3 separate regions of the Homo sapiens genome follow, and all the other regions are linked to region 1. Evidence: fine-mapped expression QTL. A gene starts in region 1. Each other region holds a variant in brackets. All regions are shown on one strand. Distances are from middle to middle.

Evidence for each region. PIP is the estimated chance that this variant, and not a neighbour inherited with it, causes the effect.
Region 2: its variant is the best candidate, but not a certain one, in a credible set for the expression of TAF1B in spinal cord (GTEx, PIP 0.72).
Region 3: its variant is the best candidate, but not a certain one, in a credible set for the expression of TAF1B in whole blood (TOPMed, PIP 0.51).

The regions. Positions count from the first base shown.
Region 1 is chr2:9,838,613-9,846,796 of GRCh38, reverse strand. TAF1B (TATA-box binding protein associated factor, RNA polymerase I subunit B) reads right to left here and starts at 3,323. Exons shown (of 15, transcript NM_005680.3): 1 at 3,238-3,323; 2 at 1,479-1,577. The coding sequence starts at 3,255. RefSeq lists a silencer at 2,963-3,042.
Region 2 is chr2:9,587,462-9,595,645 of GRCh38, reverse strand. It overlaps YWHAQ (tyrosine 3-monooxygenase/tryptophan 5-monooxygenase activation protein theta), which reads left to right. Exons shown (of 6, transcript NM_006826.4): 3 at 4,131-4,254; 4 at 7,318-7,481; 5 at 8,137-8,184. Among named protein-coding and RNA genes, the nearest start is that of ADAM17, 36 kb to the right of the region's middle. The variant AGAT/T (reference allele first, on the strand shown) is at 3,256.
Region 3 is chr2:9,932,200-9,940,383 of GRCh38, reverse strand. TAF1B (TATA-box binding protein associated factor, RNA polymerase I subunit B) reads right to left here. Exons shown (of 15, transcript NM_005680.3): 15 at 5,968-6,601. The coding sequence ends at 6,400. LOC105373422 (a long non-coding RNA gene) reads left to right here. Exons shown (of 3, transcript XR_922784.4): 3 at 548-946. Among named protein-coding and RNA genes, the nearest start is that of GRHL1, 15 kb to the left of the region's middle. RefSeq lists silencers at 1,789-2,128, 7,136-7,341. The variant T/C (reference allele first, on the strand shown) is at 3,220.

The DNA of each region.
Region 1 (8,184 bases):
ATCTCCATCACCCCAACAATTTCATCAAGTGAGCACATATCTTTTTAATATTCTGTATGACTAAACAGGAAGCAGAGATAAGCATTCCAGCTGCAGACTCAAGAACACTGCCTCAAGGAAAAGCACTTGTGTGACACACCTGCAAGCTCAATTCACCAGTTTTGTCAAGGGAAAATGTTTTTCCTTTTACTCATTTAATATATTTTGTCCAGGTTTTTCATTGTTTAGGGGACAAAGGTAAGTCTGGTCTCTGTTAGTCCATCTTAGCCAGAAGCAGAAGTCTACACAGTTACTTTTAATGTCCCAAATTTGCCTTTCTTAAGCCTGTATGGTGAAGGTAACATTTGTTCCTTCCTGGATCTGTAGACTTTGAGGAAATCCTTTTCCACTGAGGAGAGTCCTGGCACATTTAGCCTGTCCAGCAGCAGACTCTCTACACCCTTGATCACTTTGGTGATGCTGGCCCGAAGGTGTGTTCACCACAATAGGACCTAGCACTCACAATGTGAAGGTAGCCTCGTTTACCAAGGTTACACAGGACAATATGACAATCTCTACTTTAAGAGGCAGGTGTGATGGGTAAAATGAACACTGAAGTCAGAAGACTCACATTCAAGTCCTGGTACTTGGGTAACTTTGGCAAACTCACTCAACTTCTGAGCCCTATCAATAGGCTCTCACAGTTAGTGATGAGGAGGAAATGAGATAATGGATCCAAAAACTTTGTAATCTGTAAGGTACTATACAAAGGTAAAAGGATAACGAAGAATAATTCCAATATTCCCAACAGTCCTCAAGCTTTCTTTCTCTTTTTTAGACAGAGTCTTGCTCTGCTGCCCAGGCTGGAGTACAGTGGCGTGATCTCGTCTCACTGCAACCTCCGCCTCCTGGGTCCAAGCGATTCTCCTGCCTCAGCCTCTCAAGTAGCTGGGACTACAGGCGCATGCTACCACGCCTGGCTAATTGTTGTATTTTTAGTAGAGACGGAGTTTCCCATTGTTGGACAGACTGGTCTCAAACTCCCGACCTCAGGTGATCCACCTGCCTTAGCCTCCCAAAGTGCTGGGATTACAGGCGTAAGCCACTGCGCCCGGCCCAGTCCTCAAGTTTTCTAACATTCCATCTTCCAAACCTCTAAGCCACCATGACACATTTAAAAAAATGTAAATAAGTACTAACTGATAAAAAGAAATGCATCATCTTCTAAGTACAATTTTAATTATTTCCCTCAACCACATACTCTGAATAAGAAATCATTTATAAATGTGGCCCAACATAATTTCAAAAACTCATCCTCAATCTAATTCACAAATCCCTTAACCTATGTGTAAGTACCTAAGACCACATGCATCCTTGGAATGTTGGCATTGCATGAGTGACAAAAATCAACCCAATTCTTTGGGACTTAGACTACATATCAGGCTGAAATGGCAATTTTTAAAACATAAGCAAATTCATAAATGATATTTGTTACTTACCTCTGTAACATTGTGGCAAGAAGTGCAATAATATTTGCCTTCATCAGTAAGACCCCATGAGACAGCAGCACACTGAGTACAGCGTTCTTTAAACTCTTCCTATGGGAGAAGAGGACAGAAAAGGTGTTCCCATCAAGCCACATTCAATACATCGTACCTAAACCTTGCAGTTCTATTTAATGGGTTCCTGGCAACTTTATTAATAAAAAATCATAGACAATAAAAAATATGTCAGAGAGATTATCCGCAAACAAGGAGAGGCGCGGTATGAAACCGAATTAAACTACTGGAGAAAATTTATTGAAATATGCAGTGTGACAGGAAAAAAAAAGAAAAGGAGGTAGTAGGGGTAAACTGGAACCAAAGATGAGTAAACAAAGCTCCTTGAAAATACTGTGAGAAGATGACAAACAAGTATAGAGAAGACTTTTAAAAAATGCAAATACAATTTGGAACTCCTCCAGGACACTAAAAGCGCATACCACAGAGGAACTAGATTTGTAATGGTTTCAAGTTTCGATTTATTCACTCGGCAGCATAAGGGGTATCAACTATGTGTGTACCAGGCTTTTTACTAGGTGCTGGGGATTCAATGGTGAGCAAAACAGACCAGACATGATCCCTAGTCTGGGTATACGCTAGCTAATGGTGAGTTACAATTATTCATTTCATCAGCCTAGCATTTACAGAAGTTAGCCAACCATCATCAGTAAACATTTTTTAAGCCTCTACTATAAGACCGTACTGCTCCTGTATATACAGGCCTAATTCTCTGATCCCCAACTCTTTGGAGTTTGACTTGTTGTTAGCATTGATCTAATTATCGAGTATCATTTAATACCATCAAAGCGTGTGCCATTTGGCCGAGGGCGGGGGATCACCCCTATAATCCCAGCACTTTGCGAGGCTGAGGCAGGAAGATCGCCTGAGCCCAGGAGTTCAATACCAGTCTGGACAACATAGCGAGACCCCTGCCCCTACAAAAAATTAAAAAAAAAAAAATTAGCCGGGCTTGGTGGTGCATGTCTGTAGCCCTAGCTCATTGGAAGGCTGAGGCGGAAGGATCTCTCGAGCCCAGGATTCGAGGCTGCAGTGAGCCGTGATCGTGCCACTGTACTCCAGCCTGGGGGAAGAAGTGAGATCTTGTCTCAAAAATAAAAAACAAAAATGTGCCATTTTACGTAGTACCTAAAACAAAACAAAATGCATGCCAAATCAATTTTGGCAACTTGGTAAAGTGTTCAGTGACCCCGTACTAACACTACGATGAATGATAGCTGGACAATTTGGGGAGTTCCCAAACCCGAATTTAGAATCCCTGCTGGAGACAGTGGCAAGGATTCCCGGAGAGACCGACAGGGGTTACCCGGCGGCATCTCAGGTTCCAACCCCTGCCCCTCCCTCACCCACCCCAGCATTAAAGGGAACTTGTGGGTGGTCCAGTCTCGAGGATGAGCCCTGTGGGTGGCCACCCCACAAAACCCACAGCTTCATCCTTAAACACACCCATAACGACAAACACCACACCCTCCCTCCCCCACAACCTCGCCGAGCCAGAAACTCCAGCCTCTTTACCAAAGCCGCGCGCGCATGCGGCCGGCCAGCCCCAGTCCTTAGCCCGCCCTGCAGCCCTCCGCCCCGCCTTCCTCCAGCCGGTGGCGTCGCCGCCCCAACCCGCGGCGTCCTCCGCCGCTCCTCCTCAGCTTCTCTCTCCTCCGGCCCCGGCGATCGTGGCCCGCCAGGTGCACCGCCTCCTTACCGCCTCCTCGAGGTCCATCGCGGCGCCGCGGGAGCTTCCACAGCCGGGACCCGTTACCCGGGTAGCGAGCGCAGCTTCCGGGAAAGGCTGGAGAAGCTTCCGGCCGGAAACGCGAGATCCGCGCCTAGGATTCCGTGCGCCTGCGCGGCAGGGAAACCGCGCGCTCGGGGGCGAGGCTCCGCAAAGCTCGCAGACCCCTCGCGGACTACCTAACTTTCCTACTCTTGAGAACCAAAACCAACCAATAAGAAAGTGGGCGACGCCTACTGCTGAGTGGTTTGATCAAGCTCCGTTCCGACGATCATTCATTCCAAGACAGACTTGCTCCTCCGGCGGCACGGGGGGTCGGACAAGGCCGTGCTCGCGAGCGCGGGCTCTGTCCTCTGTGGGTTCCGCCCTCCGTGGGTTCTGCCCTCCGAGTCTCGCCCCTTGCTGGCTTTTTTAAGGGGAAGCCTCGGGGCTTGGAGGAAAGCTCACGGGCTGTGAGTTAGACCTAGGTTTCTAATCACGGCTCTCCTGCTTACTTGTGCCTCAGTTTACTCCTCTGTAAGAATTAGATGTTATCTGTGAGCCCCTTATAATTGAGTCTCCACCGGGCGTGCTGGTTCACGCCTGTAATCCTGGGGAGGCTGAGTCGGGAGGATTGCTTGAGGCCAGGAGTTGGAGACCAGCCGGGGCAACAAAGCGAGACCCCTTCTCTGCATAAGTAAATAACTGAATAAATAAATGCATGAGTGAATATAATTGAGTCTCAGTAAGTGCTCAATAAATTTAGCTCTTATTGTTTCTTCATCTAACACATTCATTCCTTGTTTTATTTATTAAACAGGAACTGGTTTGTGTCCTGGGGATTCAGCAGTGAACAAAGTAAACAAAAGTCCTTGCCTTCATGGAGATTGTATTCTGATGGGGAGAGACAAAAATAAATAAGGAAAATATGTGGTATGTTAAGTGGTGGTGAGTTCCAAGGAGAAAAATAAAGAGGAGAGGAGAATGGGAACAACAAGGTGATTTCAGTCTGAAATGTGATGTTCAAGAGAGATCTCATTGAGAAGAGGATTTTTGATATAATCGTACATCCCAAGAAGTTAGAAAAAAGATTAAACTGAAAAATAATGGGATGAAGGAAATGTTTAAAAAAGAGAAATTAATAAAAGAGAAAGCAAGCTTCGATAGGCTCCACAAAGGCTTGCTGTGGTGGCTGGTGCCTGTAATCCCATCACTGTGGGAGGCGAAGGCGGGCAGATTGCTGGAGGGCGGGAGTTGGAGACCAGCCTGCCCAACATATTGAGTCCTCATCTCTATAGGCTGGAGTACAATGGTTCAATCTCAGCTCAGTGCAGCCTCCACCTCCCAGGTTCAAGCAATTCTCCTGCCTCAGCCTCCCAAGTAGCTGGGATTATAGGCACGCGCCACGACGCCTGGCGAATTTTTGTATTTTTAGTAGAGACGGGGTTTCACCAGGTTGGCTGGGCTGATCTCGAACTCCTGACCTCAAGTGATCTGCCCACCTCGGCCTCCCAAAGTGCTAGGATTACAGGCGTGAGCCACCACGCCCAGCCTAAAAGATATTTTTTAAGAAGAGAGTCTCAACCAACTAACATTAGCTCTTTGAAAATACTAATACATTCGATAAACTCTGGAAAGATTGATCAAAAAGAAAAGAGCCCAGCTTGGTGATGCACACCTACAGTCCTAGCTACTTGGGAGGATGAGACGGGAGGTTTGCTTGAGCTCAAGGCTGCAGTGAGCTATAATCGGGCCACTGTGCTCCAGTCTGAGCAACGGAGCAAAGAAAATCAAAATAAACTGATATCAGTGGCATCACTAACCAATATGTAGGGGCATCACTGCAAATACCACAGACATTAAAAAGATCATAAGGGCATATTCTGAACAACTCTAGGCCAATAAATGTGAAAATTCCACCAATTTTTTTTTTTAAGACAGTCTTGCTCTTTCACCCAGTCTGGAGTGCAGTGGCACCATCTCAGCCCACTGCAACCTCCGCTTCCCAGGTTCAAGCAATTCTCCTGCCTCAGCCTCCTAAATAGCTGGGACTACAGGCGCCTACCACCACACCTGGCTAAGTTTTGTATTTTTAGTAGAGATGGAGTTTCACCATATTGGCCAGGCTGATCTTGAACTCCTGACCTGCCCACCTCGGCCTCCCAAAGTACTGGGGTTACAGGCATGAGCCACCACGCCTGGCCAAATTCTACCAAATTTTTAAGAAAGAAATAGGCCAGTCATGGTGGCTCACGCCTGTAATCCCACCACTTTAGGAGGCTGAGGCAGGAGAATATTTGAGGCCAGGAGTTCGAGACCAGCCTGACCAACATGACAAAACCTCGTCTCTACTAAAAATACAAAAATTAGCTGGGCATGGTGTTGCACGCCTGTAATCCTAGCTACCTGGGAGGCTGAGGCACAAGAATTGCTTGAACCTGGGAGGCAGAGGTTGCAGTGGGCCAAGATCATGCCATTGCACTCCAGCCTGGTTGATAGAGAGAGACTCTGTCTCAATAATAATAATAATTTTAAAAAGAAATAAATAACACCCATCTTATACAGATGCTTCCAAATAATGAAAAAAGAAGAGCATTTACCAGTACATTTTAGGAGACAAGCATGACCTTGACACCAAAACTTGACAAGGATATTTCAAGAAAAGTCAAAATTAAAAAGCAATTCCTCTCATAAACATACATGCAAAAGTTCCAAACAAAACATCAGTAAATTGAATGTACATCCTGTTGTACTCAGCAATATATAAATAGGATAATAAATCACAGCCAAGTTAGGTTTATTCTAGGAATGCAAGTTTGTTTAACATCGAGCCTGTAATCTCAGCATTTTGGAAGGCCAAGGTGGACAGAACACTTAAGCCCAGGAGTTTGAGATCAGCCTGGGAAACATAATGAGACCTCATTTCTGCAAAAAATTAAAAAATTAGCTGGGTGTGGTGGCACAGTCCAATAGTCCCAGGTACCTAGGAGACTGAGGTGGGAGGATCGGTTGAGGCTGCAGTGAGCTGTGGTCACGCCACTGCATTCCAGCCTACATGACAAAGCAAGACCTTTTCTCAAAATTAAAAAATGTTAAAAGAAAAAGTAGAGAAAAAAGAATAAAGATTTAAAAAATAAATAAAAGAGAAAAAAATAAATCATACAGTAATCTAGTGTGATGCAAGGATAGACCAAAAAATTGACAGAACTGAATAGAAAGTCCAGAAACGGACTCATAAGTACATATAAAATAATCTGATTTACAACAAAGCTGCTACTAAAATTCAGTGAGGAAAGAATAGCTTTTCTCCTTTTTCTTTGTTTCTTTTTTGAGATAGAGTCTTGCTCTGTTGCCCAGGCTGGAGTGCAATGGCACAATCGCGGCTCACTGCAACCTCTGCCACTCAGGTTCAAGCAATTCTCGGGCCTTAGCTTCCCAAGTAGAGGTAGCTGGGACTACAGGCATGTGCCATGACACCTGGCTAATTTTGTATTTTTTAGTAGAGATGGAATTTTGCCATGTTGGCCAGGCTGGTCTCGAACTCATAGCCTCTAGTGATCCACCCACCTCGGCCTCCCAAAGTGCTGGGATTATAGGCGTGAGCTGAAAGAATAGTTTTTCAATAAATGGTTCTGAATCAATCAGACATGCATATGAGAAAATTATTGACCCCTTTCTCACACTGTACACAAAAATTAATTCAAATAGATCCTACATGTGATAGGTAAAACCATAAAGCTTCTAGAAAAAAAAAGTGGTAAATATCTTTATGATTTGGTGTGGAATAGACTTCATCAACAGGGCACAAAAAGCACTACTCCTAAGAGAAAAGGTCATTACACTGGATTTCATTAAATTAAGAACTTCGATTCATCAGAAGACATTGTTAGGCTGAGCACAGTGGCTCACGCCTAGAACCTAGCACTTTCAGAGGCCGAGGTGGGAGGATTGCTTCAGCCCAGAAGTTCAAGATCAGCCTGGGCAACATAGAGAGATCCTATCTCTACAAAATTTTTTTAAAACTTAGTTGGGTGTGGTGGGCATGCCTGTAGTTCCAGCTACTCAGGAGGCTGGGTCGGGGGGATTGCTTCAGCCCGGGAAGTCAAGGCTGCAGTGAGCTGTGATCATGACACTTCCCTCCAGCCTGGGTGACAGAGACCCTGTCTTTAAAAAAAATTAAAAAAAAAAAGACATAATTAAAGCAAACTAAAAACTGAGAGAAGAAATTCACAATACATATTCGACAAGACATGTAACAAAGGTTTCCTACCGATCTATTAAGAAATAATAAACAATCCAGTTAAAAATAGGCAAAAAGATTTGAACAGGTATTTCATAAAAGATAACAGCTAAATGGTCAATAAATATATGAAAATGTACGCAACGTCATTACTTATCAGACAAGTACAAATTAGATCAGGCTTGGTGGCTCATGCCTATAATCCCAGGATTTTAGGAGGTCAAGGCCTTGCCTTCCACCATGATTGTGAGGCTTCCCCAGCCACATGGAACTGAATAAGTCCATTTGAACCTCCTCCTTTTGTAAATTGCCCGGTCTCGGGTATGTCTTTATCAGCAGTGTGAAAACAGACTAATGCAGTGCGTGAGAAGGGAGAGGATCTGCAGCACCATGGAGGGGTCAGCCCTAGCATAGAGGGTTCATCTGCTGCAGAACCAGGAAAGAAGGGAGAGCACGTGGGACAGCGCAGGTGCATGAGGTGGAAGGTCTGTTCTCTGAGCTTCATTGAAATGGAAGCAAGTCATCAGTTGAGAGTGGGAGTGGGGAGGGCTGTGGGAAGTTTGAGAGGAGACCAGAGGTGTAATAACTCTTGGAAATGGAAGAATGGAATCAGGAATCTAGCAAAAATTGCAAGCAGCATGAGGGCCTACTTGACATTTGCAATCATAAATATAAAGATAAGGCAGTCAAGACACCCA
Region 2 (8,184 bases), 250 kb after region 1:
TGGAACTTCTGCCTCCTGGGTTCAAGCAGTTCTCCTGTGTCAGCCTCCCAAATAGCTGGGATTACAGGCATGTGTCACCATACCCGGCTAATTTTGTATTTTTAGTAGAAATGGGGTTTCACCGTGGTGGTCAGGCTGGTCTTGAACTCCTGACCTCAAGTGATCCACCCATCTCGGCCTCCCAAAGTGCTGGGATAACAGGCATGAGTCACGGCACCTGGCCCTCGCTCCTGACTTCTGGGAAAGACTTTCAGGGAGTTATGTGTCAGTTTGGGGTTTTTGGTCTCTGATCCGTGTTTTTTACAATAATTTTAAAATATTATACATTTATAGGCTATATTCTATCTGGCATTAATAATATTTGGTATTGATAATACAGATACAGACTTGATTATTTGGGAAAGACATGAAGCAGACTCCATTATGTCTTTTAGTTGAGCTAAAGTATACATCTTTACTACTGATAGTATATGGAAAGACGGAACTATTCTGTACCTGTTGTTTCCTTCACAGAGAGCTAGTGGCATCTGACAAAGAACCATGATACCTGGCTGAAACTCCAGGATGGAAGTAATGCCCAAGTCACTTTGTAAAAGCCCAACACTGTAAATCATACGTAATGGTTATATGCAAACTAGTAGTCAAAGTTAATAATTTTAGAAAGAAGAGGTTAGCTCATAAGTGGCTGTGTTGTAATGAATGCAGTAGCTGTTTGGCAGCTTTCTGAATCCTTGGAAGGCCCTTTGTCCACAGTCCTTGAGAACACCCACACATCTAGCATGAGTGACTCAGGAGAGACTAGTGCTAGAATGGAAATTTCTCTCTTCCCTACTCCTCACCCTAAGCCATTGTTCTAGTCAGACTTTTCTCAGCCCCTGCTCTTACAAATCTACCACAGTTAACAGAGCACTAGGTCTTAAAGGTACTGAGTAGCTTTTTTTGTGACCATAAATAATATCTTCACCAGAGCTGGCATCTTTTTGGAGATCCTGTGGAATTTCATTGTAACTGACTGACTCACTTGGAGGAACAAGAAAAGTGAGAGGCATCTTACTTTACATTAGAGTTCCTTGGTGTGGGTACAGGCAGAGGTGGTATTTCTCTCGGTATAAATACTATGTTTGCCTTCTTTGATACTACTTCTCAGAATCCACTCATTTAAAGATACCAATGACTGAGTCAGTTTGAGATCTAGAACTTTTTTTGTGACTATCTCACTATTGCCTCCTACCCTCCTCCTTCCACCACAACCCTAAATTCAGTTCATAAAAATAGTTTTTAAATTGAAAGTCATCCATAATACATGAAAATGGTAATAGAGGAAAAAGTTAAAGTAATATAATTTTTTAAGATTCGAGTGTCTCAGTTTATTAAAAAACTATTAAAATTATATTGGTGATGTTGAGCACAATAAATTCTGAAAAACTGATTTGTCTGTTGTTTTTACAGTTAAGAGTGTAGTGATACTGGAGCAGCACTTGTCACAGTTGCCTTTAATTTGGGTGTGGCCCTAATGACCTCTTTTGCCACACTCCTGGCTCAGCAACTTTCCAACTTGAGCCACAATTTTGATACTCATGACTTCTATAATGCATAAACTTCTGAGACTTCGATACATAATTTTATACTAATTTTTTGTGCGTGCGTGTGTGTGTGTGTGTGTGTGTGTTTTAACTTCCTCTGGCCTCAGGCCCTTAAAAAAGTGTGTGTGTGTGTGTGTGTATATATATATATATATATTTTTTTTAATCTATTTAAAATATTTTTTCAATTAAAGGATTTTTAATGTTTTTCTGGTTTTTTTCTTTTAGAGACAGACAGGATCTCTTTTGCTCTGTCTCCCAGGCTGGAATGCAGTGGCACGATCATGGCTCACTGCAGCCTCCACCCCCGGGGTTTAAGCCTTCCTTCTGCCTCAGCCTTCCAAGTAGCTGGGATTACAGGTGTATGCCACCACACCTAATTTTTTTAAAATTCTTTGTAGAGACAGGGTCCCATTATGTTGCCCAGGCTGGTCTCAAACTCCTGGGCTCTCAGGCAATCCTCTTGCCTCTGCCTCTACTTCCCAGAGTGCTTGGATGGTAGGTGTGAGCTGTTGTACGCAGCCTCTGTTTATTTTCTTTAAAAATAACTTATGGGCCAGGCGCAGTGGCTCACGCCTGTAATCCCAGTACTTTGGGAGGCCGAGGTGGGCAGATCACTTGAGGTCAGGAGTTTGAGACCAGCCTGGTCAACATGGTGAAACCCTGTCTCTACTAAAAATACAAAAGTAAGCTGGGCGTGGTGGTGTGCGCCTGTAGTCCCAGCTGCTCGGGAGGCTGAGGCAGGAGAATCATTTGAGAATCACCACTGCACTCTAGCCTGGGCAACAGAGTGAGACTTTGTCTCAAAAAAAAAAAAAAAAAAAAAGACATGGATGCAGTGATTGCATTTTGTTAGACCACTTTTAGTCAGATAAACAAGAAGAAAGTTCTTGGTTAGAATTGTATATTTTTAAATTTATAAACAGCCTTCCTTTTCTTTAGCAGTTATGTGAATTTGACTCAACCTTACTTGTTAATTCTCCAGACTTGCCAACTTGGTATCATGGATGGTATTTTATATAATATTAACTGAGCGTATCTGTGGTTATTTTTCCAAAATGTAAAAAGGATCTTCTCTCTTCCCTGCTTTAAAACGTTCACTAGTTTCACTTTTCCTAGAGCAGTGCTTTTCAAACTGTGTACCTAGGCTGATACTAGCTAACATTTACTGAGTACTTAACATGTGACACTATTCCAGGCTTTGACATCTGTTACTGGTTTTATTCTCAAAACAAACCAATGAAGTAGGTATTAGTATCTTAACATTTTTATGAGAATTTCATTTTGCTTTGTAATATTTAATACAAAAAAGCTTTTTTTGTTTTTGTTTTTGTTTTTTGAGATGGAGTCCACACTGTCACCCGGGCTGCAGTGCAGTAGCATGATCTCGGCTCACTGCAACCTCCACCTCCCAGGTTCAAGCAATTCTCCTGCCTCAGCCTCCTGAGTAGCTGGGATTACAGGTGCCCACCATCACGCTTGGCTAATTTTTTGTATTTTTAGTAGAGACGGGGTTTCATTATGTTGGCCAGGCTGGTCTCGAACTCCTGACCTTGTTATCTGCCCGCCTTGGCATCCTAAAGTGCTGGGATTACAGCCGTGAGCCACCGCGCCCGGCCCTAAAAAGGTTTTTAAATGGATGACCTAGCATCAAGAAAAATGGAATCTAAGA[AGAT/T]TTCTATCATATTTGTCTTTTGTGACTTTTTATACTCCAAGGCATAGCATACCATGTACTAGAAGTGAAAATTTCTTTGTATGAAATTAGGGACAAAAGACATACTCAAGAACTTTTTTAAAAAAATAATTAGATTTCGTAGACCTAAAATTATTCTTTTAAATTGCTGTGCAAGTTTCTAAACCTCTTACTCTCGATTCCTGTATTTACCTCATTTTAGATGGATACTTGAATGCAAAGGGCACTGAGTAGCACTATTCTCCCTCGTACTTGATGTTTTAAACATTTTGTTTCCCGTCCCTAAAATGAGTGCACATCCCTGTTTTCTGTTTGGTGCATTTCTACTTTTCCTTCTTCATGCCTCAAATACTCTTTCCCTGGGAAGCCTGTCTTAACTGGAGGCCATCTCCAGCAGAGCTACTCCATCTGTGTGCTTCCTTAGCACCGTATTCACATCTTTCTTAGTTCTTGGTATGTAGTTGGTGTACTTACAGACGGTGAGCTTCTTGAGGGCAGGGGCCTGATTTTAAGTCTTCTCTATATCCGTTATAGCACCTAGCAGGTATGAGTAAATGTTGAATGAATGGATGAGTGAACAGATAGGCTGTTTCAAATTACAATGTTTGGTGTAATCTAGAATCTAGCCTTACCATTAGAAACTATAGGCTACATCATTTAAAGCCTCCCAGGGCAACTAGTGGCAACAACCTAACCCCTGCTCTAAGAACATGCTTCAAGTCCAGGCTGGTATGGTATAGTATTACTGTAGTAGTAAATGATTGAAATGCCCGCTAGGCAGAAGTTTTATCATTTAATGATAATGCACAGTAGGCAGAAGTTTAGTGCCTAATGTTCTGTCTTATTTATTTCAGGAATTGTTGGATAAATATTTAATAGCCAATGCAACTAATCCAGAGAGTAAGGTCTTCTATCTGAAAATGAAGGGTGATTACTTCCGGTACCTTGCTGAAGTTGCGTGTGGTGATGATCGAAAACGTAAGTTTATTTGTTATATGGGCAAAAGTAGAATATAAAAAAAAGAAATGGGGATAAATGGGACACTATGACAGTATACGTAGTCTTCAGGCTCTTTGTGACTTAATAATTGAATGTATGTCAAGAAAATTAGTATTACCTTATGTTCTCAAAAATGAAAATTGGATTATAAATTTACATCACATGCTCTTTAAAAAAATTAAGCTCATCTGTGAACTCTGTAATCTCATATGGTATTATTTAAAACAGGATTAATCTTTTATGCTTTTTAGAATTTTGGTTCACCATATTTTTAGCTCCAGAGTTTTTTGTGTAAACTTTATGAGTGATTCTGCATTTCACATGGCCTTTCTATTATGCCTTAAAACTTCAGATCACTGGAAATTACATACAGAACGTGGAAACAGGTTGTTGTGCTTTTGCTGTTTGTCATATTCATTATCGTCTATTTTAAGGGGTCATAACATTGACTGCTAATTACATATAATCAGATTTCTGAGGAGAGGTGAAATGAGTGTGTTATTGCTGGTGTATAACTTGCTCCAACTTCACAGTAAGTTTGAATGACTCATGGTTAGGTTTTACTTGAGAAGGTTGAATATACAGGAACTGTTGATTAATCAAGTAGTGGTCATAAAAATAGATTTTAGTATTAAATACCTTTTTTTTTTAACCTAGACTATCATAGAAAACATGGATATGAGAAAAAGTGACCGAATTGCCTAACTTGATAATAAAAAAGTGAAGTGAATTTATTTGCAGTGAATGTCTCTTGGGATACTGGCAGCTGAATATAAGATAGATCTCATTAAATTTAGTGTATGTGCTTGCTACCAGATTTATCAAGTTCTAGGTATTAGAAGTGTCAGTCCTTATTTTTTCCAGTAAGTTTGTTGTTTTGTTCTTAATTTTGCCCTGTCTACAAAGATATACCCCTACAAATAGTTACTATGATCTGAAAATGAGAGTTTTGCCATCCTAAATATCAGTGTAACTGAATATATAAAGAGAACTTGTACCTGAGAAACTGTTATACCTTGCTATAACAAAATCTATATACTAAACTTACTTATTCTGTTACTGATGTGTAATTTCTGTTGCCATGAAGGTAAGCAGAATTGGACATGATACGGGCACGGAACTGTACATTTAAGTATCAGAAAGCCAAAGAGAAGTATTTGGGAGATTGAGACATAGCTGTAGCTTTAACCTGATTTAACCCTTAGGAGCTCATTGGCACTTTCAGGTCTCACACGTAGTCCTGTGTACATTCTGATAGGCTGCGATTCATAGATAGGCTGTCTTTATAGCCTAATTGCTGAGACACTGGTGCTTCCTAATTTGCCAAGCTGCAAGAACTTCTTATTGCATGTGGGCTGTACCAGTCAGGGATTAGATCAATAAATGTGCCATTTCAGAGGAAAGAAAATGAACATAATTCAGGTCATAAAGGGATAGCTTAATTCTCTTACGTCAGTATCTCTAAAGCTGTAATAGGCCAGTGGCCTCATACAGAAAACTACCCTTTTCAAAACATGGGTATAATCAGATTAGTGTTGGTAATACTGAACATTTTTTGAAGGGGGAGTAACATTTTAATTAGGCTAGTAATCAAACTCTGGTCAGAGCAGATTTTGTCCTATTTATTGAAACTTTTATATTGCCTTTCAAATAATACCACTTGATACTAAGAATCAGTATTTCTGCAAATCAGAAAAATAGAGATTTTGGTGTTGATGATCTTTGTAAAGTTTACATTATTTAGGGAAAGGGTATTCCAGTCAAATTATTATTATTATTATTAATTTTGAATGGAGTTTTGCTCTTGTTGCCCAGGTTGAAGTGCAATGGCGCGATCTTGGCTCACCGTAAGCTCCGCCTCCCGGGTTCAAGTGAGGCTTGTGCCTAGCCTCCCAAGTAGCTGGGATTACAGGCATGCATCACCACTCCCATCTAATTTTTGTATTATTAGTAGAGACGGGGTTTCTCCATGTTGGTAAGGCTGGTCTTGTACCTCCAACCTCAGGTGATCTGCCTGCCTCAGCCTCCCAAAGTGTTAGGATTACAGGCGTGAGCCACTGTAAATTATTCCAGTCAAATTATTTTTAATTGCTGCATTTCCAAGTAATAGAATTAAAAGACATAAAATAAGAAAATAGTTTTAGCCTAGGTATGGAAAAAAGTCTGATTTACTATAATATCTCATGTTTTTTTTCCATTAAGCTGTTTATATGTAAGCAACATTCTAAACTGGTTTTTTGTTTTGTTTGTTTGTTTGAGACAAACTGTCACTGAGGTTGGGAGTGCAGCAGCATGATCTTGGCTCACTGCAGCTTCAACCTCCTGGGCTCAAGGGGTCCTCCCACCTCAGCCTCCCAAGTAGCTAGAGCTACAGGCACGCACTACCATGCCTAGCTATTTTTTATTATTATTATTTTTTGTAGAGACAGGGATAAGATCTCCCTGTGTTGCCCAGGCTGGTCTTGAACTCTTCAGGTTCAAGTGATCCCCCTGCCTCACCTTCCCAAAGTGTTGGGATTAGAGGCATGAGCCACTGCACCTGGCCATAAACAAGTTCTTAAATACCCAGTACACAATATTGTTTTTGTTTGTTTGTTTTTGACACAGAGTATCGTTCTGTTGCCCAAGCTGGAGTGCAGTGGTGTGATGTCGGCTCACTGCAACCTCAGCCTCCCAGGTTCAAGCGATTCTCATGCCTCAGCCTCCTGAGTAGCTGGGATTACAGATGCCCGCCATCACGCCTGGCTAATTTTTGTATTTTTAGTAGAGATGGGGTTTCGCCATGTTGGCTAGACTGGTCTTGAACTCCTGATCTCAAGTGATCCACCCACCTCGGCCTCCCAAAGTGCTGGGATTATAGGCGTGAGCCACCGCGCCTGGCCACGATAATGTTTTTTGTTAGCTACCATGATTTTAAAAGACCCATACAGAGAAAAAATCTTGGTTCTACCAAGAGCTAGTAGCATATGTTCAAGTTGTTAATGTACTGTGTACTGGATGGTTATTTTTAATATTGCACTTCTTATTTTTCGCTCTTCACAGAAACGATAGATAATTCCCAAGGAGCTTACCAAGAGGCATTTGATATAAGCAAGAAAGAGATGCAACCCACACACCCAATCCGCCTGGGGCTTGCTCTTAACTTTTCTGTATTTTACTATGAGATTCTTAATAACCCAGAGCTTGCCTGCACGCTGGCTAAAACGGTAAGATGTGTGTCCAGGAAATACGTACTTTAGCTACAGTTATTTGAGATACCAGGTATGTTAATTTATAGGTATTTTACTTGGATACCCAGGGATGATTTCTACTATATTTATTTTGAAATCTCCTCTTTTTCTTCCCATCATGATTACCTACTCCTACCCCTGACACCTTACTCTACCCTATGATTATAAGCAGTGATGTGCCTACAGAGCATACTGAGCAGAGTAATCAAAGAAGGATAAATGATGTTAAGAAGGAAACATAAAAGATTAGAAAGTCATGCCTGCCAGGTTTGGTTACTAGAATAGCTGTGCATCAGCCACATTCCTCAAAGTGGCTCAAAACGAGAGAATAAAGAGGACCCTGTAGAGATAAGTACTACTTAACTGGAAAGAAGTCTGTTAAGCATTGCTGCTGTTCCGTTGTCCTGTGAAAGAACCAAGACATGCTTGTTTACTAAGTGTATAGTTTTATAAAATTCCAGTCATACTCATAAGTTCTTAAACTGGGAGTGTGAGAGAATGGTTCTGTTGAGTTTGTTGATGGTAGAACATAAGGTGGGTGTTCACTTATTTTGTAAAAATGGTTTGTAATTGTAGAATAACCAGTTTTCGTCAATGCACATATTTTACCATGGATATTAATATTTATCAGGCTTTTGATGAGGCCATTGCTGAACTTGATACACTGAATGAAGACTCA
Region 3 (8,184 bases), 94 kb before region 1:
GCAAGTCACCCAGTTCAACGCAAATATCCATAAAACATGTACTAATTGTCCCAGAAGGGAATGATTGTTTCAGAAGGGCAGAAGGCCAACTGAGCTGAAATACCAGGTTCTTAATTTATAAAGTCAATAAAAGCACTCTTTTGTAAGCTCTTCTGAAGTCATAGCATATTATCAGGTAAGTCTGGCACTAAAGCTCTTTATGCTTAAATACTTCACAAGGGCACGAAACAAGGGAACATACACTTAGAGCTGCTTGAATTCGTTTTGTGAGAGACTTAATACTGTGTGAATTTACTCAGCTTTCAGGAACACAGAGGCATTTTAATTTTTTTAAAAAGTCACCAGCTACATACTCAAGATAAAAACACACACTCTTAACTACCTGCAGTTTATAATAATCCACAGAACTTTTACAGCAGGCCTACTTTGGAAACTGTATTCAAGGTCTTGCTGAAGATTCGGGAAATCATGCTCCTTTCTTATTTAAACAATATGTTGTCTTCTTGTGTGAATAGAGGGATGAATTAATACTCCTTTTTTTTTCTAGGTGGCTTTGTGCCAATGGAGGGAAAAAGAAAGATAACAAGGAACTAGACACTGTGGGTGAACTCCTGGCCTCCTGCTGCGAGGCGCCTGAGGACCCTGGGCTCTCCCTCCTCGGTTTGGGCTTCAGAGGACCCTGGGCTCTCCCTCCTCGGTTTGGGCTTCAGAAGGTGGCTCCACTTCTGGGTGGCAGTGACAGGCAGACCTGCTGAGAGCCCAGAGAGAAATACTACCCTGCAGGGAGATAAGGTCATCAACCTGCCACCACTGGTATATTCCCATAATAATGTCCACTGGTCCCAGTCGAGAGGCACCCACTCCTTTTCCTCTTGTCTAACACAGGAGTCTCGAGCTGCCTAAAGAAACCCATTTTTGGGAAGAGGATTAAAAACAAACAAACAAACAACAAAACTGTGCTCCAAATGTATATAACCCTGTAGATTAATGAAACATTTGGGCCAAAGTTCTGTATTCTCATAGGCAAAGACTCTCATAGTATTAATATATTCACTGATTTTAAATTATTTTTAACTTAAAGGTTTTGTTTTAATCTGCTGTGATGAAATCTTGGATCACTATAGCTGTAAATGAGTAGATTTATCTAGATATGTTAAATGAACAAATGTAAAATGTTCGATACAGCACAGGTGCTTAATAAGTTGGCTTCAGAGCCGTGTTTTTCCAACATGTTCTGATGATCCAAGTTTGATACTTAAGACAATTAAAAACAAGAAATTTAACTTAGTTTCAGCACATGTATGGTATATATATTTGTATGGCTATGAGCTTAGGCTGGTCGTAGACATAAGACAATTGAAGCACTCTTTTCCACAGGTATCGGCCGCATTCTGTTTCACTCCCTATAAGCATTTGATTTTGCACTACAGGTATTACTGAGACCATGTGGAATCTCACTTAGTTTTATTTCCCTTTAGGGTAGTTGCCTAAATCATAAAATTATGCTTCACTGTAGTGGTAGGAAATCTAATTTATTTATTTATAAGATGGAGTCTCATTCTGTTGCCCAGGCTAGAGTGCAGTGGCATGATCTCAGCTCACTGCAACCTCTGCCTCCTGGGTTCAAGCGATTCTCCTGCCTCAGCCTCTCAAGTAGCTGGGATTACAGGCACCTGCCACAAACTCTCAGCAAATTTTTGTATTTTTAGTAGAGACAGGGTTTCACTATGTTGGCCAGGCTGATCTTCAACTCCTGACCTCAAGTGATGCACCCACCTTGGCCTCCCAAAGTGCTGGGATAACAGGCATGAGCCACCCTGTGCCCACACCTGGCCAAGAAATAATCTAATTTTTTTAAAAAGACATAAAATGTGTTCATGAAAGAGATTCCACCCAAATCAACACATAAATCACTCTAGTGGCAAAGTAGTTTATTTATTATGTTTCCTTAAAGGAGATTAAGACTCGACTCCTCTCCCAGCCGGGGCAGCCCGGGAACTCAGCGCCCCCCTCCAGTGGTGCCCAGAGCCTCCCAGCGCCATGTCCATCTCTCTTCCTCTTGGCATCCATTGTGGCACTCAGCCCACCTCTGCCTCATTTCATGATTGTGTGCTTTTGTAGTTTAGAAACAGCTGCGGCAAGCATTTAGGTAAAGGCCTCAAGCAGACAACCTACAGGGTGCTCCGTGTCAGTGCAGGTGCCTGGGCAGAGAAGCTGCGGCACAGCTGCAGAGGTGGCCCTGGGGGTGGCGGGGGCCTCTGCTATCAGGAGGATGTGGAAGGCCACTGTGGGGCAGCCCTGCACGGGACAGAGGGCTTTTGGGACCACGGGAACTGAGAGGAGCCGTTAGGAGGGGGTCACGGGCTGCAAGTTCCACAGTGGGGCCCTGTTGTCCCAGCCAGCAGAAGCACCAGTGACTGTCCCACCCTGGAGCCTGGAGCGAACCAGAGGACTTGTTAAAACAGATTGTTGGACCCACACTGTGTTTCTGGATTGGGAGTCAGGAGTAGGCCTGAGAATGTGCATTTCTAATGAGTGCCCAGGTAATGCTGATGTCACTGGTCCAGGGACCACACTTTGAGAACCAATGTGATAATCAAGAAATGTCTTTTGAATCAAATTTACTAAAATATTCATAAACCTTTCTCCACCCGAAGGATGCAAACGAAAGGGAGACACAGAGACTGTCAAAGCTATAGGCAGTCTGCAGGTGATGATTTTATTTTTTTAAATGTGGTTTGGAATCTGGAGTCTGAGACCTGGACCCAAATCTCACCACAGCTTTGTGCTGGCTGAGCACCCTGGGAAGGAAGGTAACTTCACAGCGGAACCCCTAGCCCCACACCTATTATCTAAAGACGATTGCATGGCCCCCAGAACAGTGGGGACTGAATTTCGTATGGCAGGACCTCATCTGAATATACAGTAGGTGCTCAATACGTGCTATTACCCTCTTCCCTTTTTGGCAGTAGACAGATAAGCTTTTTCTATGACTGATACCATTTTTAGATGTGAAAACACTGACTCCTAGAGAGTAACATTTCATCACTAGCCTTCAATGGTAATTCATACAATTGGAAATGCATGGAAAGCCATATTTTTCACTTCCTTCTCCTCTCTTGTTAATCTTATCTCATATTCATGGGTGGCCCAAAACTTTTCATAGCTTTGAGCGCTCTGTCCCAATATTTTTAAGTACATGGAACTTGTTAGCAACTT[T/C]GATTTTTTTATTCAAAGGAAGTGCCATAACACTTCAAATCATGTCAATTCCATGACACTCATCTTCAAAAAAGATCTTTCAGTTCAAATCTTAGAAAGCAAGTTTTTAAATTATAAAAGATATGCTTCTTATATTCTCCAAATCCTGCTCCTGAACAGGGATATTGTTTCAATAGTTTGTTCCTTTTTCACAGCTGAGCAGTGTTTCATTGTATGGATATCCACCATGTGTTTATCCATTCACCTGCTGATGGCTGTTTGGGTTGTTTTCCCTTTTTTTTGCTATTCCAAATAAAGTTGCTATGAATATTTGTATACAAGTCTTTGTGTGGAAACATGCTTTTATTTTTCTTGGGTAGACACCTAGTAGTGGAATGGCTGGGTCACATGGTAGGTCTAATTTTCACTTTTAAGAAACTACCAAACCAGGCTGGGCGCAGTGGCTCACATCTGTAATTCCAGCACTTTGGGAGACAGAGGTGGGAGGATCACCTGAGGTCACGAGTTCAAGACCATCCTGAGCAGCATAGCAAGACCCCATCATCTTTACAAAAAAATAAAATGTCTATTGAATCAAATTTACTTAATATTCACAAACTTTTCTCCACCGGAAGGATGTGAAGAAGGGGAGACAGAGACTGTTAAAGCTATAGGCAGTCTGCAGGTGATTTTTTTTTTTTTAATGTGGTTTGGAATCTGGAGTCGGAGACTTGGGCCCAAATCTCACCACAGCTTTGTGCTGGCTGAGCATCCTGTATATAATTTAAATCAATGTGTAAGTCTCATTATAAAAAGTTACAAAAATTAGGCTGGGCACGGTGGCTCACGCCTGTAATCCCAGCACTTTAGGAGGCCAAGGCGGGTGGATCACGAGGTCAGATCGAGACCATCCTGGCTAACACGGTGAAACCCCATCTCTACTAAAAATTCAAAAATTAGCTGGCGTGGTGGTGGGCGCCTGTAGTCCCAGCTACTCAGGAGGCTGAGGCAGGAGAATGGCATGAAGCCGGGAGGCGGGGCTTGCAGTGAGCCGAGATCGTGCCACTGCACTCCAGCCTGGGCGACAGAGTGAGACTCTGTCTCAAAAAAAAAAAAAAAGTTGCAAAAATTAAAAAATATTAAAAGTTGTAGTCAGCCAGGCGTGGTGGCTCATACCTGTAATCCCAGCACTTTGGGAGGCTGAGGTGGGAGGATCACTTGAGCCGAGAATTTCAAGACTAGCCTAGGCAACATACTGAGACCTCTGTCTCTACAAAAAATAAAAAATTTAGCTGGATATGATGGCACATGCCTGTGGTCTCAGCTAGTCAGGCTCAGGAGGAGCATTTGAGCCAGGGAGTCAAAGCTGCAGTGAGCCAAGGTCACACCACTGTACTCCAGCCTGGGTGACACAGCAAGACCCTGTCTCAAAAAAAAAAAAAAAAAAAAAAAAAAAAAGAAAAGAAAAAAGAAAACCTTACAATAAGTGAAACAGGTAGAGAGTAACAAAATACATTCAATTCAAAATGAACTCTCTAACCACTGCTCACATCCCCACTACGGTGTACTCATCAGAGTAGTCAGTGATACTTTTATGATATACGTTGGATCACATCATTCTTTTGTTTAAAAATTTCCAGTGGCTTCCTGTGACATTTGAGAAAAAAGCCAACCGTGGTAAGGTCATCCTTACCGTGACCTCAGAGCAACCTCTACCATCCCACCTGCCCATCTGCTCTCCCTCTCCCCTTTATCCACAGTGCTCCAGCCACTCTGGACACCCTGCCAGTCCTTGACTGCATCCAGCATGCCCCTGCTCAGAACCTCTGCACATCTTTCCTCTGCCTGGGCTGATCTCCCCCTGGATGGCTGCATGGCTGCTCGTGCTACTGTGTTCCAGGCAAGTTGGTCTCTGCTCTAATGCCACTGCCCCAGAGGATCCTCCCTCAGCCGCCCTTTAAAAAATGGCCTACCTTATCATTTATCTTTTCTTGCTTTTTCTTCATTGTACTTAATTCCCTCAAAAATAATATATATTTTTACTATCAGCTTTCACCTAGTTGGAACCTATGATCTTTAAAGGTGGGGGTCTTGTTCAGTGCTGTATCCCCAGTGCTTAGAACATGCCTGAACACAGGAGTTGCTATCTGTTGCATGCATAAATGAACTCAGAACAAGAATGCCTGATTTTCCAATGTCCATACCAGGTTTTACACATCTTTATAATCTTTGCCAATCCAGTATGTGGGAAACAGTATTCATTTCAATTTGTATTTCTTGAGTATAAGTGAGGTCGAGTATCCTATGATGTTTTTTGGCTTGGCCTTCAGAAAACTAATTTTTCTTTTCTTTTTTTTTTTTTTGAGACAGAGTCTTGCACTGTCACCCAGGCTGCAGTGCAGTGGCGCAATCTCGGCTCACTGCAAGCTCCGCCTCCTAGGTTAACGCCATTCTCCTGCCTCAGCCTCCTGAGTAGCTGGGACTACAGGCGCCCGCCACCATGCCCGGCTAATTTTTTGTATTTTTAGTAGAGACGGGGTTTCACCATGTTAGCTAGGATGGTCTCGATCTCCTGACCTCGTGATCCGCCCACCTCGGCCTCCCAAAGTGCTGGGATTACAGGTGTGAGCCACCGCGCCCGGCCTCAGAAAACTAATTTTTCATATCCCTTACTCAGTTTGCTTTTTTCCTTTTGCTTTGCAAGAGCTATTGATACATTAAAGAAATTATTTCTTTGTCCACCATATGCTGCAAAAATTGACTTTGCCATTCCAAGATCATCAAAGCATTCATATTTGTTTTCTACTAATACTTTTATATTTTTACATATGAAAGATTATGTTTAGATCTTTGATCCATCTGGGATTTACTCTGGGGCATAAAGAATAATGAAGGGATCTAGTTTAAAAAATAAATTTAGCTTTAAAATACGATGAGTATACATTTCTGGATACAATTATACAATTTGCTATTGTTTTAACTTTCTCTTAGAATGTTCATACTCTGAAAAATAAAATCAAATGAAGCTCACCTGCTTTACAATATACATTTTTCTAAGCACACTTGATATATATGTAAATATGTGTCAGAGTCTATACATATATATGCAGTATTTTCCACAATTCTCTGGAATGTTATATTAAAATCTGATGTTATTATCACTATTAAAATATTTTTCCAGAAAGTTTCTATTTCATTTTCTCAATGTCGTCTCACTTTCTTGGATCTTGATTTCTTTCTTTTTACACTGTATTTTTTCTCAAAAAGTTTCTTCTCAACTAAGCTCACTTCTTCATGGAGAAGGGAAGTCTTTATTCTGAGCAGGAAGGAGAAGAGATTTAGTATAAACTGATAACTCAGAGAATAATTTGATTCTTCATAGGTTGTCACATGTGTACAATAGCTAGAAGGGAAAAAGAAAAAAGAATTTATCTTTAGATGGTAACCAAGAAATGCACACACTAACCCCTGAACATCCCCCCAAATAACTTAGCAAATATATATGGTTAGGCTTAAAACAGGACCCTGAGCTGGAAGGAAACTTAGAAGAATTTGTTAACTCCTTAACTGCACAAAGGAAAACATGTTCACACTGTCCATGGCCACCACACAAGGGCCACAGGTGGTGCTAAGAGCTGGTCCTTCAACTCTTTGCTCAAAGTTTCTTCACTCCAGATGGGCCACCACTCCACTTTCTTACCATGGTCAAGGCAAACAAAAGCACACAGGGAGAGATTCTGAACATATTTCTAAAACAAACTAAAGAAAACAAATAATTCCTGACTTCCACCCAAAATAAGACACTAGACTTTATAATGTAGCTTGCAATACTATATGTATTGTGAGAGAAGAGTTTACCAAGCAATTTCCATTATTTTAAAATAGGAAAGCCTTCCGTTACAAGATGGCTGAACAGGAACAGCTCTGGTCTGCAGCTCCCAGCATGATCAGAAGACGGGTGATTTCTGCATTTCCAGCTGAGGTACCTGGTTCATCTCACTGGGACTGGCTGCACAGTGGGTGCAGCCCACGGAGGGTGAGCCGAAGCAGGGCGGGGCATCACCTCACCTGGGAAGGGATTTCCCTTTCCTAGCCAAGGGAAGCCATGACAGACTGTACCTGGAAAATCGGGACACTCCCACCCAAATACTGCGCTTTTCCAATGGTCTTAGCAAACGGCACACCAGGAGATTATAACCTGAGCCTGGCTCAGCTGGTCCCTCGCCCACGGAGCCTTGCTCACTGCTAGTGCAGCAGTCTGAGATTGACCTGCGAGGCAGCAGCCTGGCAGGCGGAGGGGCGTCCACCATTGCTGAGGCTTGAGTAGGTAAACAAAGCGGTCAGGAAGCTCAAACCGGGCAGAGCCCACTGCAGCTCAGCAAGGCCTGCTGCCTCTGTAAACTACACCTCTGGGGGCAGCACACAGCTGAACAAAAGGCAGCAGAAACTTCTGCAGACTTAAACGTCCCTGTCTGACAGCTCTGAAGAAAGCAGTGGTTCTCACAGCATGGTGTTTGAGCTCTGAGAACAGACAGACTGCCTCCTCAAGTGGGTCCCTGACCCCCGTGCAGCCTAACTGGGAGACACCTCCCAGTAAGGGCCGACTGACACCTCATACAGGCAGGTGCCCCCTGGGACAAAGCTTCCAGAGGAAGGATCAGGCAGCAATATTTGCTGTTCTGCAGCCTCCACTGGTGATACCCAGGCAAACAGGGTCTGGAGTGGACTTCCAGCAAACTCCAACAGACCTGCAGCTGAGGGACCTGACTGTTAGAAGGAAAACTAACAAACAGAAAGGAGTAGCATCAACATCAACAAAAAGGACATCCACAACAAAACCTCATCTGTAGGTCACCAACATCAGAGACCAAAGGTAGATAAAACCACAAAGGTGGGGAGAAACCAGAGCAGAAAAGCTGAAAATTCTAAAAACTGGAGCACTTCTTCTCCTCCAAAGGATTGCAGCTCCTTGCCAGCAACGGAACA